Regions from separate parts of the Homo sapiens genome. Here region 1 is linked to region 2. The links come from fine-mapping of genetic effects on gene expression. A gene starts in region 2. The other region holds a variant in brackets. All regions are shown on one strand. Distances are between the middles of the regions. Region 1 overlaps NFIC (nuclear factor I C). Region 2 holds the start of NFIC (nuclear factor I C).

Region 1 (5,363 bases), 37 kb before region 2:
GTTGCAGTGAGCCGAGATCGTGCCATTGCACTCCAGCCTAGGCAACAAGAGTGAAACTCCATCTCAAAAATAAATAAATAAATAAATAAATTAAATTAAATAAAAATAGAAAGGAATTCCAGTACGGACCCTGATCCTCCATAGAGAACTTCCTCCTCCCCAAGATGCTCTAAGGAGGGAAGCAGCTGTCAGTTTTGCCAGTGCTGTGTGACCTCACTAAAAGCACTCTCCCTCTCTGAGCCTCCACATCCTGACAGTGCAGATGACCTAAAACCCCTGCCCAGCCCTTGTCCATCGCCTGTCTGGACAAATCAAAAGAGGAAAAAACACAAGCCCATAGATGTTCTCCGCACTCCCCGCCCGCCCCAGGGACAGGGAGGAAAATCTGGATGTGACCTGGGGGGGCCCGAGAGGCAGAGGCGTGGACGGGGTGACCTCCAGGACGCTGGCCTCCATCCCGGGCCTCCCCGGCCTCGTCCTTCCTGCGTTCCTTAAGTCTGGCCCATACTTTCCATCTCCCTCTCCCCTGCCGCCGGGCCGCCTGGGCCGGAGCCAACCTGCTTCGGAATCACTTTCAAAGAAAAGTTTCTTTTTTCTTTCCACCCGGCCCCCGCCGGCTCCATGGCCTGGCTCCGGGCCCTCCCGGGCGCTGGTGGACGCCTCGGTGTCCTGCGGGTCAGGTCAGCGGCCACCACCGCCCCGGAACCGTCCCCAGCATCGGGCTGTTGGGACTGGAGGCCCAGTGCTGGCCTCGCCCTCCCCCAGGTCTCGGGCCCGCCTCTGGGGACCCCTGGGGACCCCGGTGTCACTCTTTGTGGGTGTCCGGCCTGGGCAGCGGGTCTGGAGGTCCCTGGAGGCCGCAGGGCCCCTGCTCGGAGGCCTGCGCGTAGGGACTCGCCCCGTGCTGGGGACGCTCTGGGAGGCCACGCCGCCCATGACATCATCCCTCTGGCGGCCATTTTCTCGCCTCTCCCTTCCCCTGTTCCAGATGTTTCTCCGGCCTTGGCGGCCATTTTGTAGGTCTGGGCGGCGCAGGCTGGCACCGGCCTCGGGCACCCGGCCCTGCCCTCCTGGGTGGGGTGGGGGTGGGGGGACACCAGGAGAAGGTGACAAGGGAGCCTCTGGGGCACCACTGGGCCCTGGGCCGCCTCCCCCAGCCCCTCTGCAGCCTCTGAGGGGTTAAACACGTGGTGCCAACAGCAGGGCGGCCTTGCCAAGCGCCCACCCGCGCACGGCCACCCAGGGCTCCCCACGCCTCCGCGCCCCCTCCCCATTATCTGCCACTCGGCACCAGCCACTCCAGGGATGTGAGGAGCAAGGTTAAAAATACCCGCACGCACACCCTCACCCCCACCCCCTCCCGGTCCCGCCAATGTCAAATGTGTCAACGCCACCCGGGGTGGGGGGGAGTGGACTGAAAATAACTCGCTGTTTACATTTGGAGCAAATTCTTGGCTTCCCAGCAGCCAAGCTGAGGCCTCCCCACACCCCCACCCCCAACACCTTCCTGGCAGGCCTGACTCGGCGGCTGTGACGGGGGGGGGAGAAGGGCAGGCCTCGGGGGGAGCCCTGGGAGCCACATGTGCCCACGGGCTGAACGCACACGCACGCGTCCCCATGGAGAGGTTCGGGAAGGGATGGGGGGAAAGGGGCAGGCCAGGGGCTGGGGGGGTGGAGAAGGGAGCCCCGGGAGCCACATGTGCCACTGGCTGAGCGCACACACGGGCGTCCCCATGGAGAGGCTCCGGAAGGGATCAGTGGCCACACGAAGCAGGCAGGGCCAGTCGGAAGCGCCCGAGGACACTCTCTGCCAATGTCGGGCACCGGGTGGGGGCAGCCGGGCGCGGCGGGGGGTGGCGGGAGGAGGCGGAGGCCCCTCCCGGCTTCCCCTTCCTTCTGATATTTCTTGGGGCGCGTCTCCAACTGGGCAGCCCGCGGGGAGTCCGGAGGACGGGAGGCAAGGCTGGCGGCCCAGCCAAAGGAGGCAGGAGGAAGGCGCGGGAGCCCGGGCAGGCGCCCAGGGGAGGGCTCTCCGCAATTCCGAGGCCTGCCCGGTGCTGTGTGGCTTCAGGCAAGCCCTGCCCCTCTCTGGGCCTCCAAGAAAAAACAAAATACCAAACGCCCTGGCTTTGGCGTGGGGTCAGGAGAATAGACTCCATGCCAGTCTTGCTTGGGGAGGGAGAGGTAGACACATCTCCGCCCTGCTCTGTGCCTCAGTTTCCCTTGCTGCAAAAAGTAGATGTCAAGTTGTAAACACATCAGATTGTGGAGTGTTCTGCTTTACAAAGGGGGAAACGGAAGATCCGAGAGAGGAAGGGGCTTGCCGCAGATCTCACGGCCACGCAGTTGGACAACGGAACTTGAACCCAGAGGTTTAAATGTTGCCTTGAATGTGGGAGGGGGCTGGAAACCAGAGGGCACAAACCTGAAAGGGGGTAGAAGGAAACTTTCTCCTTCCCAAGCTTTCATGTGGCCTCTCTCCCCAGAGCCTGCTACACAGGTGGTGCTCGATAAATGCTTTTACACAGCTGGCACTCAATAAATGCCTGCAGCCAAATGAGTGTGATTATTCCAGCAGAGCCTGGCACACAGTAGGCACCCAATATGAACTTGTTGCATGAATATTTGGGATTCTCCTGATAGGATCTGGTATACAGCAGGTGCAAAATAAATGCTTGTCAGGGAAAGGAATGTGAGGAACATTAAGAGATTTGGGGGAGTAGTCAAAGTGGAGGACTAGGACCACAGGCCCTGCACAACCTGTCCTGTCCGCTTTCTGCCCTCCCCTCTTCCCTCTCTCCCCCTCACTCACTCTGCTCCAGCCACAGGGGCCTCCTCGCTGTTCCTCCAATGCACCTGGCCCAGTCCTGCCTCAGGGCCTTTGCACATTCTGTTCCCTCTGTCTAAACAGCTAACTGCTTGCTCTCTCTTGAGATCTCTCCTGGTCTCAGCTCAAATGCTCCCTTCTCAGAGAGGTCTACGCTGAGCCCCTTCACCTCAAGCAGCCTCTGGC[T/C]ACCCTCAATCTCAGCCTTCTGTTTTCTTTCCTTCAGAGGAAGTTAGTGATTGCCTATGGATTTGCTTAGTTGCTTAGTGACTGCACGGGTGTTTGCTCATCTCCCCAGTGGAATGTCACCTCCTTGAGGGCAGAGGCTTTGTCTGTCTAGATCTCTGTTGTGCCCTCAGTGGCTAGAATAAGGCCTGATACAGACTAGGTGCTCAATAAATATTTGTAGAAAGAAAGTTGAGAGGGAGGGATGAGCAGAGAGAAAAAGAGAGACAAGGAGACATGGTACATGGGGGAGTGGAAGGAGGAGGCATGAAAAGGAAGGACCGTCTGGGCGCAGTGGCTCCAGCCTGTAATCCCAGCACTGTGGGAGGCTGAGGCTGGGTGGATCACCTGAGGTCAGGCATTCGAGACTTGCCTGGTCGTCAACATGACAAAGCCCCATCTCTACTAAAAATACAAAAATTAGCTGGCTATAGTGGCACATGCCTGTAGTCCCAGCTACTTGGGAGGCTGAGGCAGGAGAATTGCTTGAACCCTGGAGGCGGAGGTTGCAGTCAGCTGAGATCGTGCCACTGCACTTCAGCCTGGGTGACAGAGTGAGACTTCGTCTCAAAAAAAAGAAAAAAAAATAAGAAAGAAAATAAATGAGAATAGGCTGGGTACGGTGGTTCACACCTGTAATCCTAGAACTTTGGGAGGTCGAGGCGGTTGGATCAATTGAGTTCAGGAGTTTGAGACCAGCCTGGCCAACATGGTGCAACTCCGTCTCTACTAAAAACACAAAAATTAGCTGGGTGAGGTGGTGCACACTTGTAGTCCCAGCTACTCAGGAGGCTGAGGCAGGAGAATCTCTTAAACCTGTGAGGCAGAGGTTGTAGTGAGCTGAGATCGCACCACTGCACTCCAGCCTGGGTGACAGAGCGAGACTCTGTCTAAAAAAAGAGAAAAAAAAAGAGAATAACCCTGCCATGTGGGTGGCGTACCTGGGTTAGGGCTGGGACCCTGGCAGGAGCCCAGAGCCCCACGGGCCTCCCGGGCACCAGGACCCATATCCCAGCTTGCCCGCTAACAAAGTCCTGATTGCAGGAGAGCTCCCAGGCGTGCCCAGTGCTGCGCCGCTCCCTTCCCTGCATGTGCCCAGGCAGGTGCGGCTTGCAGGCAGGAGACGGGGCAAGGAGAGCAAGGGCCAGCCTCAGATAAGGTATAAACGACCCAGGTGAGCAACTGAATCCTCACACCGTCGGAGTTGACCTGGATTCTGCCCCCTCCTCTGCCTCTGTCCCTGCTACCGCCTGCTTGCACCAGGGCGGTCCACTCTGCCCTGGTCCCCAGCTCCTGCCCTCACCCCCCACAGTCTGTCCTCCCTGCAGCAGGCAGAGGGTGCCTGTGAGCACCTGAGTCAGGGCTGGTCCCTCCTCTGCCCATAGCCCTCTATGGCTCCCACCTGCCTTGGGGTCAAAGCCCAAGTCCTTCCTACTGCCCACCAGGCCTTGCACAAACTGCCCTCCCCTCCTCCTTCTCTTCCTCTCCTCACTCTGCTGCAGCCACACAGGCCTCCTCACTGTTCCTCCAAAGTGCCAGGTGTGTCCTGCCGCAGGGCCTTTGCACGGGCTGTGCCCTCTGCCTGGAACGCCTTCCCCCAGTTCTTCATATAACTGGTTCCTCCTCACTTCTCAGGTCTCAGCTCAAATGTCAGGTCCTCAGACAGCCTTTCAGGGACCTCCCCAGCACAGCCCATCAGCCTCTTTTCCTTTGGCCTTCTTTATTTTTCTTGATAGTCCTTATCGCTAAACTGACATTTATTTCTTTTTATTTTTATTATTATTATTTTTTGAGACGGAGTCTCGCTCTGTGGCCCCAGCTGGAGTGTAGTGGTACAATCTCGGCTCACTGCAACCTCCGCCTTCCGGGTTCAAGCGATTCTCCTGCCTCAGCCCCTGCCAGTGGCTGGATTACAGGCGCATACCGCTATGCCTGGCTAATGTTTTGTATTTTTAGTAGGAACGGGGTTTCACCATGTTGGCCAGGCTGGTCTTGAACTCCTGACCTCAGGTGATCTGCCCGCCTCGGCCCCCCACAGTGCTGGGATGACAGGCGTGAGCCACCGCACTAAGCCTAAACTGACATTTATTTCTTGTTCTTTGCCCATCGCCTGAACCAAACTGTGAGTTCCACGAGGGCAGAATTTTTTTTTTTCTGAGACAGAGTCTCACTCTGTCACCCAGGCTGGAGTGCAGTGGCGTGATCTCGGCTCACTGCAAGCTCCGCCTCCCAGGTTCACACCATTCTCCTGCCTCAGCCTCCTGAGGATCTGGGACAACAGGCACCTGCCATCACGCCTGGCTAATTTTTTTTG
Region 2 (5,363 bases):
GAGATGGAGAGACAGGGAGAAACAGACACACACACACACACACACACACACACACACACAGAGTCAGAGCAAGACAGAGAGAAAGAGAGAAAGACAGACAAAAAGAGACCAAGATGAGAGAAACGGAGGGGACGTGATTCGGGAAACTGAGTCAGGCAGCCAGGACTTGGGTGGGAGGCTCCTGCATGGGGCACTCAGGGTCCTTCTGAGTCCCCCAGCCCACCCCACTGGCTACCCCAGACCAGGCTGGGCCTTGGGGGAACAGTGGGGATTACATTCAGGCTGAAGACAAACTGGAAAGGGGGTCCCCAGCTCCACTACAGGGCTGGGGTGGAGGGCGGGGCAGAGAGGAGAATCGCAGGGGAGGAGGGAGCCCCCTGCACTTGGGACTCGCTGTCCCCACTCTGGCCTGGGAGCTCTCTGCCTCTGTCTCTCTGCCTGTCTCTGTCTTCTCATCTCTGTCTCTTGCACGCAGCACCCCTGGATAGTTTTTAGTTTTTAGCCTCTCCGTTTTTTGGTTTCCACAGACAGCCCTCCTGGCTGGTCCTTGCCCTGTTCCTGGAGAAACTGAGGCCGAGTTAGCAATTCTCTGAGGCAAAGCCTGGACTGGGGTTCTTACTAACCCCCAACCCACCCCAGCAACCAGGATGTCTCCCAACCAGCCCTGATGGGGGAATTCCAGGGTGCACAGGCAGCCTTCCAACCTCCCCAGCCTGGAACAGCCTCCCCTCCGCTCAGCCCTCCCAAATGGCTCCTTCCAGCTGGTGAGGACAGAGCGGGGACACCTCAGTCACCCCACAAGCCCAGAGACTTCAAAGGCTGCCCGAGGTCACACAGCGTGCCCACTCGAACCCTAGTTGTTCTTGGAGAACTTCAAAGAGATGCCTTCTTCGGGAACCCCCCCCCCAAAGCTGCTCAGAAAGGGAAACTGAGGCTGGGACAGGGACTTACCCAAGGTCACTCAGGGGATCACAGGTAGGACAGACCTCAGACCCCCTCAGCACCAGCTCCCACATTCCCTGTCGGCTGCAGGGGGCCGGTGAGAAAGACCCTACCAAGGAGCATGCCTGGCGTGGGGGGTCCCTCACTGCACCATGCCCTGGAGCGGAAGCCGGGGACTCATATACTCCCCACACAGTGCTTCTTAAGACGGGCCTGGCCCTCGCTGGAATCGCACCCCCCACGTGCCGGGACTTTACAGTTTGCCCGCCATACTGTCCCCTCTCCAGAACCGGCCTTAGCCGCACCTCACTTCAGGGGAAACTGAGGCCAGAACCTCTCCAGCCTAAAGACACACTGCGTAAGGAGGAAAGCAGCGGTCTAGAAAACGGAACTTGCAGACCTCGGGGTCCCCGGGAGCCTGGGCTGGAAGGAGTCCCCGGGGGGAGCCGCCCCCTCCCCACACACCCCCTCGGCCATTGCACAAGGCTCGGCCCCGGGGCAGTCTGGGAGTGCGGCCAGGGGTGAGAGGCTACGGGAGGGGGAGGGGGAGGGGGAGGGGACGGGGCAGGTGCCGGGCTGGCGAGGGCGTCCGCAGCGCCGCAGTGCCCGGGCCAGACCCGGAGCGCCGGGCCTCCCGCTCCTCCCGGCGGCGGCTCCAGAATCCAGAATCCAGAATCCAGAATCGATGCAGCGAAAATACCGGGACGGTGCTGGGGGGCTTGCAAAGGAGGGGGGACCCAGCCGGGCCGCCGGAGCACCCTTCCCCCTCCTGGGCCTCCAACTTCTCCTGCCCCCTCCCCCTCCATGCACACGTGGGCCAATAACGAGGGAAAGGCGACCGAGGGCCAGGGCGGCCCGCACAACCTTGGTGGGGGGACACGGGGAAAACACATGAGAGGTCCCTTTCTCTCCAGCTGGGGAGACCCAGGGTCCAATCACGACCCCCTAGATTCCTCTCAGAGGCAGGCGGGGGGCTTCCCGCAGAGCCCTTGCTGGAGGGGGGCCAGCCCCCACCCCGACCTTTCCGAGTGTCGGGGCGGGGGTGCGGAGTGCGTCGGTGTGTGGGGGGGGGACGCAAATCTGCAGACCAAGCCCCACATCCGGGAGAGGTCCCGAGAGTCGGGGTTGGGGGTGCTGGGCGGGAGTCCCGCGTAGGGGGTCCGCGGTAGGTAAGGGTGTGGGGGGGGTACCCCAGCCTGACCCATCCCCCCACCGGACCCCAGCCCTCGGCGCGGGGGGCATCCCGGGCAGGGATGGCGGGAGGGACGCGCGCCTTTTTCGTCCCGCCTCCTCCTGCTTCAAAACTCCGGGGCTGGGATGCGGGGGGCGCGGGGGCGCCGGCGGGGGGCCGGGCGAGGACCGTACCTGGGTGAGGCAGAGCGGGGACGAATACATCCCGGGCGCGGCGGGAGGCGCAGGGCCGGCCGGAGCGGGCGCGCTGAACTTACTGAGTCATTTTTCCAAACCACCCCCCCGCCCCCCCCAACCCCCCCCCCCGCCCCGCGGCCGGCGCGCTCTCCTCGCCGCCTCCTCCCTCGGTCTCCCTCCTCCTCCCTCCTGCTCTCCCTCTCTCGCGCCGCCCGCCTCGCTCTCTGTCCCTCTCTCCCTCCGTCTCTCTCTTCCTCTCTCCCCCGTCTCTGTCTCTCTGTCTCTCTCTCTACCCTCTGACACCCTCCCCCTCCCACCCCGAACCTCCCACTTCTCAACACCCAACTTTCAAAGAAACGAGGGAAAAAAGGGCGCGAGCGAGAAAGGAGAGCCTCCCCCGACGTCTCAGGACCCCCCCGCTCCTCCCGTATTTACGCAATGCCCCAGGGCACTAGACCAGGACCCCAGGACTGCAGGGCGACCCCAATTCGGATCAAGCGGAGAGGGGGGACAGGGTTGTTTCTGGACATTGAGGGGCCAGGGGTGGATTTTTAAGGCCCCCCCTCCCCACCCCCCCATCACCCCCGAGCTGGCCGGGAAGTTGGAGGAAAGAGCCAGGGGGGAGGGAAGGAATGAAGAAGTGACGTGCGCAGAGGCCGGCCAGCGCGCCTCTTTCCCCTTAAAGATGTACGACCCTGGGTGCACGGTGAGCTGGTCCCACAGCACCCTGGCTCCCTTCTCCCCCCAGAGCCAGGCAGGGGCTGCGGGTCCCCAGCTAGAGGGGCTTGTGTGCAGCTGTCCCTTCCTTGGCCAGAAGGGCCCAGGCTAACACGGGAGGCTCCAGAATTTGCTCTCTTCACCCAGCACCCAAGGGGCAGGGGAGGGGTGGCCTCGCCTGTGTGTCTCTCCAGCACCCCAGGAGGACGGTGTCCAGGCGGGATCTCCAGCTGGCCAGATAAACCCTTGCAGCCTCCCCCTGGGTATCCAATAATTTCCACCTGCCTCAGGGGTGTGCCCTTTTCACAGATCTCAAGACTGAGGTATGGCAAGTGTGGCTTGGAGCCAGGCCATCTGGACCTGGAGCCCACATTCTGTTCTCCTTCTAGACGTAACAGGGCAGAGACCTGGCCTGCCTCCGTCTGAGCCCCCAGGGCATCTGATGACAGGGCCCCAACCCTCCCCCGGTTCACTCCCTGGATCCTCCCAGGCTAGCTCAGAGGCTGCTGTGTCTCTCATTCCCATCCCAAGGGTTCTCCCCTATAAAGTGGCTTAAAGATGCCCATCCTGTGGGATTGCTGGGGATAAGGACAATGACCTTAGCAGAGCCTTGACCTTGGGTCAAATGTTCACTAAAGACACATTCTTAGAAAGCTTGGCCATTTCACCTCATCTCTCTGAGCTTCCCAAGGACAAATGATACCCTCTCACCAAGCTGGGGCAGGTGCCCCAGGCCCAGGGGCGCAGAAGATACCAGCACCCATTATCCTCAGGCATTACAGGAGAGGAAACTGAGGCCCAGAGAACGGAAGCCACTTGCCCAGGGTCTGACAGGTAAACTAGGAGGGAGCAGAATTCCTGCAGCGTAGGTTCCCTAGGCCCCCCACAGGCTCCCCTCTGCATGACGGTGACATTATTCAAACAGTGCTTAGTACATCACGAACGGTCCATAAATGTGTGTGTCTGTGTATTTTAAACCCACTGTGCAGCTGTGGGGAGCATTTGAATTAAATGGTGAGAAGTGTATCTGGAAATCCACATACCAATATAACGTGAAGCAATTTATTTTATTAAAACACGCTAGGGACACATACAGGGTGAAATCTAAAATTCACAGATATTTAAAAGTTGCAGTTGACTTCAGACACTCCTCCTAGACTTCCAGACCCCGTGCCTTCCACCCTCCCTCCCCTGTACAGACCACCCTGCCTGCAGCCTTCATTCAGCAGCTTAGAATCCTTTGGAAGGTGAAGTTTAGAGAGCAGAGACTGCCCCTCTTGGAACCTCGGTTTCCTCATCTGTAAAATGGCTATAGTAACAGGATGCATCTTGGGAGGTGGGGAAGGTTGGAGTCTTTACATAGCATGTGGGAAGGCTGTGTGAATATTATTGGTGGCGGTAGCTGCAGGGAGAAACTTCTGCAAGTGTACGAACAGCAGCCTATATCCCAGTTTGGGTGGCAAGGGACCCCCGCAGCACACACAGTTGGTTCCCTAAATTGCCGCGTGGGCTCGCTGCTTGGGTCTATGTCTCCTCCAGTCAGCAGCTTCGTCTCTCTGCACCTCGGCTCTCCCTCTGTGAAATGGGGCGACGCCAGCTCATAACCCTCCAGGTTGTAGGCAAGTCAGCAAATACCTGCCCGTGGTTACAACAGGGAACTGTACGTCATAGTTTCTTTAAAAAGGCAATTGGTAGATTGGGACCTGCATGTGGAGGGCCCGGAAGATGGGTGCATGATTTAGCTCCTGGCACTTTCGAGCACAATCTGGCTCATTTTTTTTTTTTTTCAAAGCACTCTCTCTACAGTTATTTCACTCTTCGGCATCTCTGTAACTGTCCCAGATACAGGAGCACAAAAGAGTTGACTGCCACCTATAAAACTAATGCCCACAATTTGGAGGCAGCCATGCTGTCCATCTGTGGGGGACCGGTTTAGTAATCCCAACACAGGCTGGGACACTATGCAGCTGAGTAAAACCAGTGGCTCCCAACTGGTTATGTCCCCAAGAGACAAGTGGGGGGACAGAAAGCTGGAGAGCTCTCCCCCTTGGCACTGTGGACACTGGGGCTGGATCGCTCTCTGGGTTGGGGCCGTCCTGGGCCCTGCAGGGTGCTGAGCAGAGTCCATGGCCTCCACCCACTCCATGCCAGGGGCACCCCCCAGTCGTGACAACCACAAATGTCCTTAGACATGGCTAAGTGTCCCATGGGAACAGAATCAACCCTGGCTGAGACCCCACTGCTGTAGACCCAGCAAGGAAATTCAAGATCTCATTTAGGGTTTTAAAGAGTACACATGTATTTATACAAATATACATAGTATCCTTTACATACAC

The links. PIP is the estimated chance that this variant, and not a neighbour inherited with it, causes the effect. A credible set is the group of variants that fine-mapping cannot tell apart.
Region 1: its variant is the best candidate, but not a certain one, in a credible set for the expression of NFIC in whole blood (TOPMed, PIP 0.66).

The regions. Positions count from the first base shown.
Region 1 is chr19:3,400,319-3,405,681 of GRCh38, reverse strand. The region is part of intron 2 of NFIC (nuclear factor I C); the gene reads right to left. Among named protein-coding and RNA genes, the nearest start is that of NFIC, 36 kb to the right of the region's middle. The variant T/C (reference allele first, on the strand shown) is at 3,014.
Region 2 is chr19:3,363,611-3,368,973 of GRCh38, reverse strand. NFIC (nuclear factor I C) reads right to left here and starts at 2,391. Exons shown (of 11, transcript NM_001245002.2): 1 at 2,308-2,391. The coding sequence starts at 2,337. RefSeq lists silencers at 1,383-1,782, 2,073-2,222, 2,673-2,762.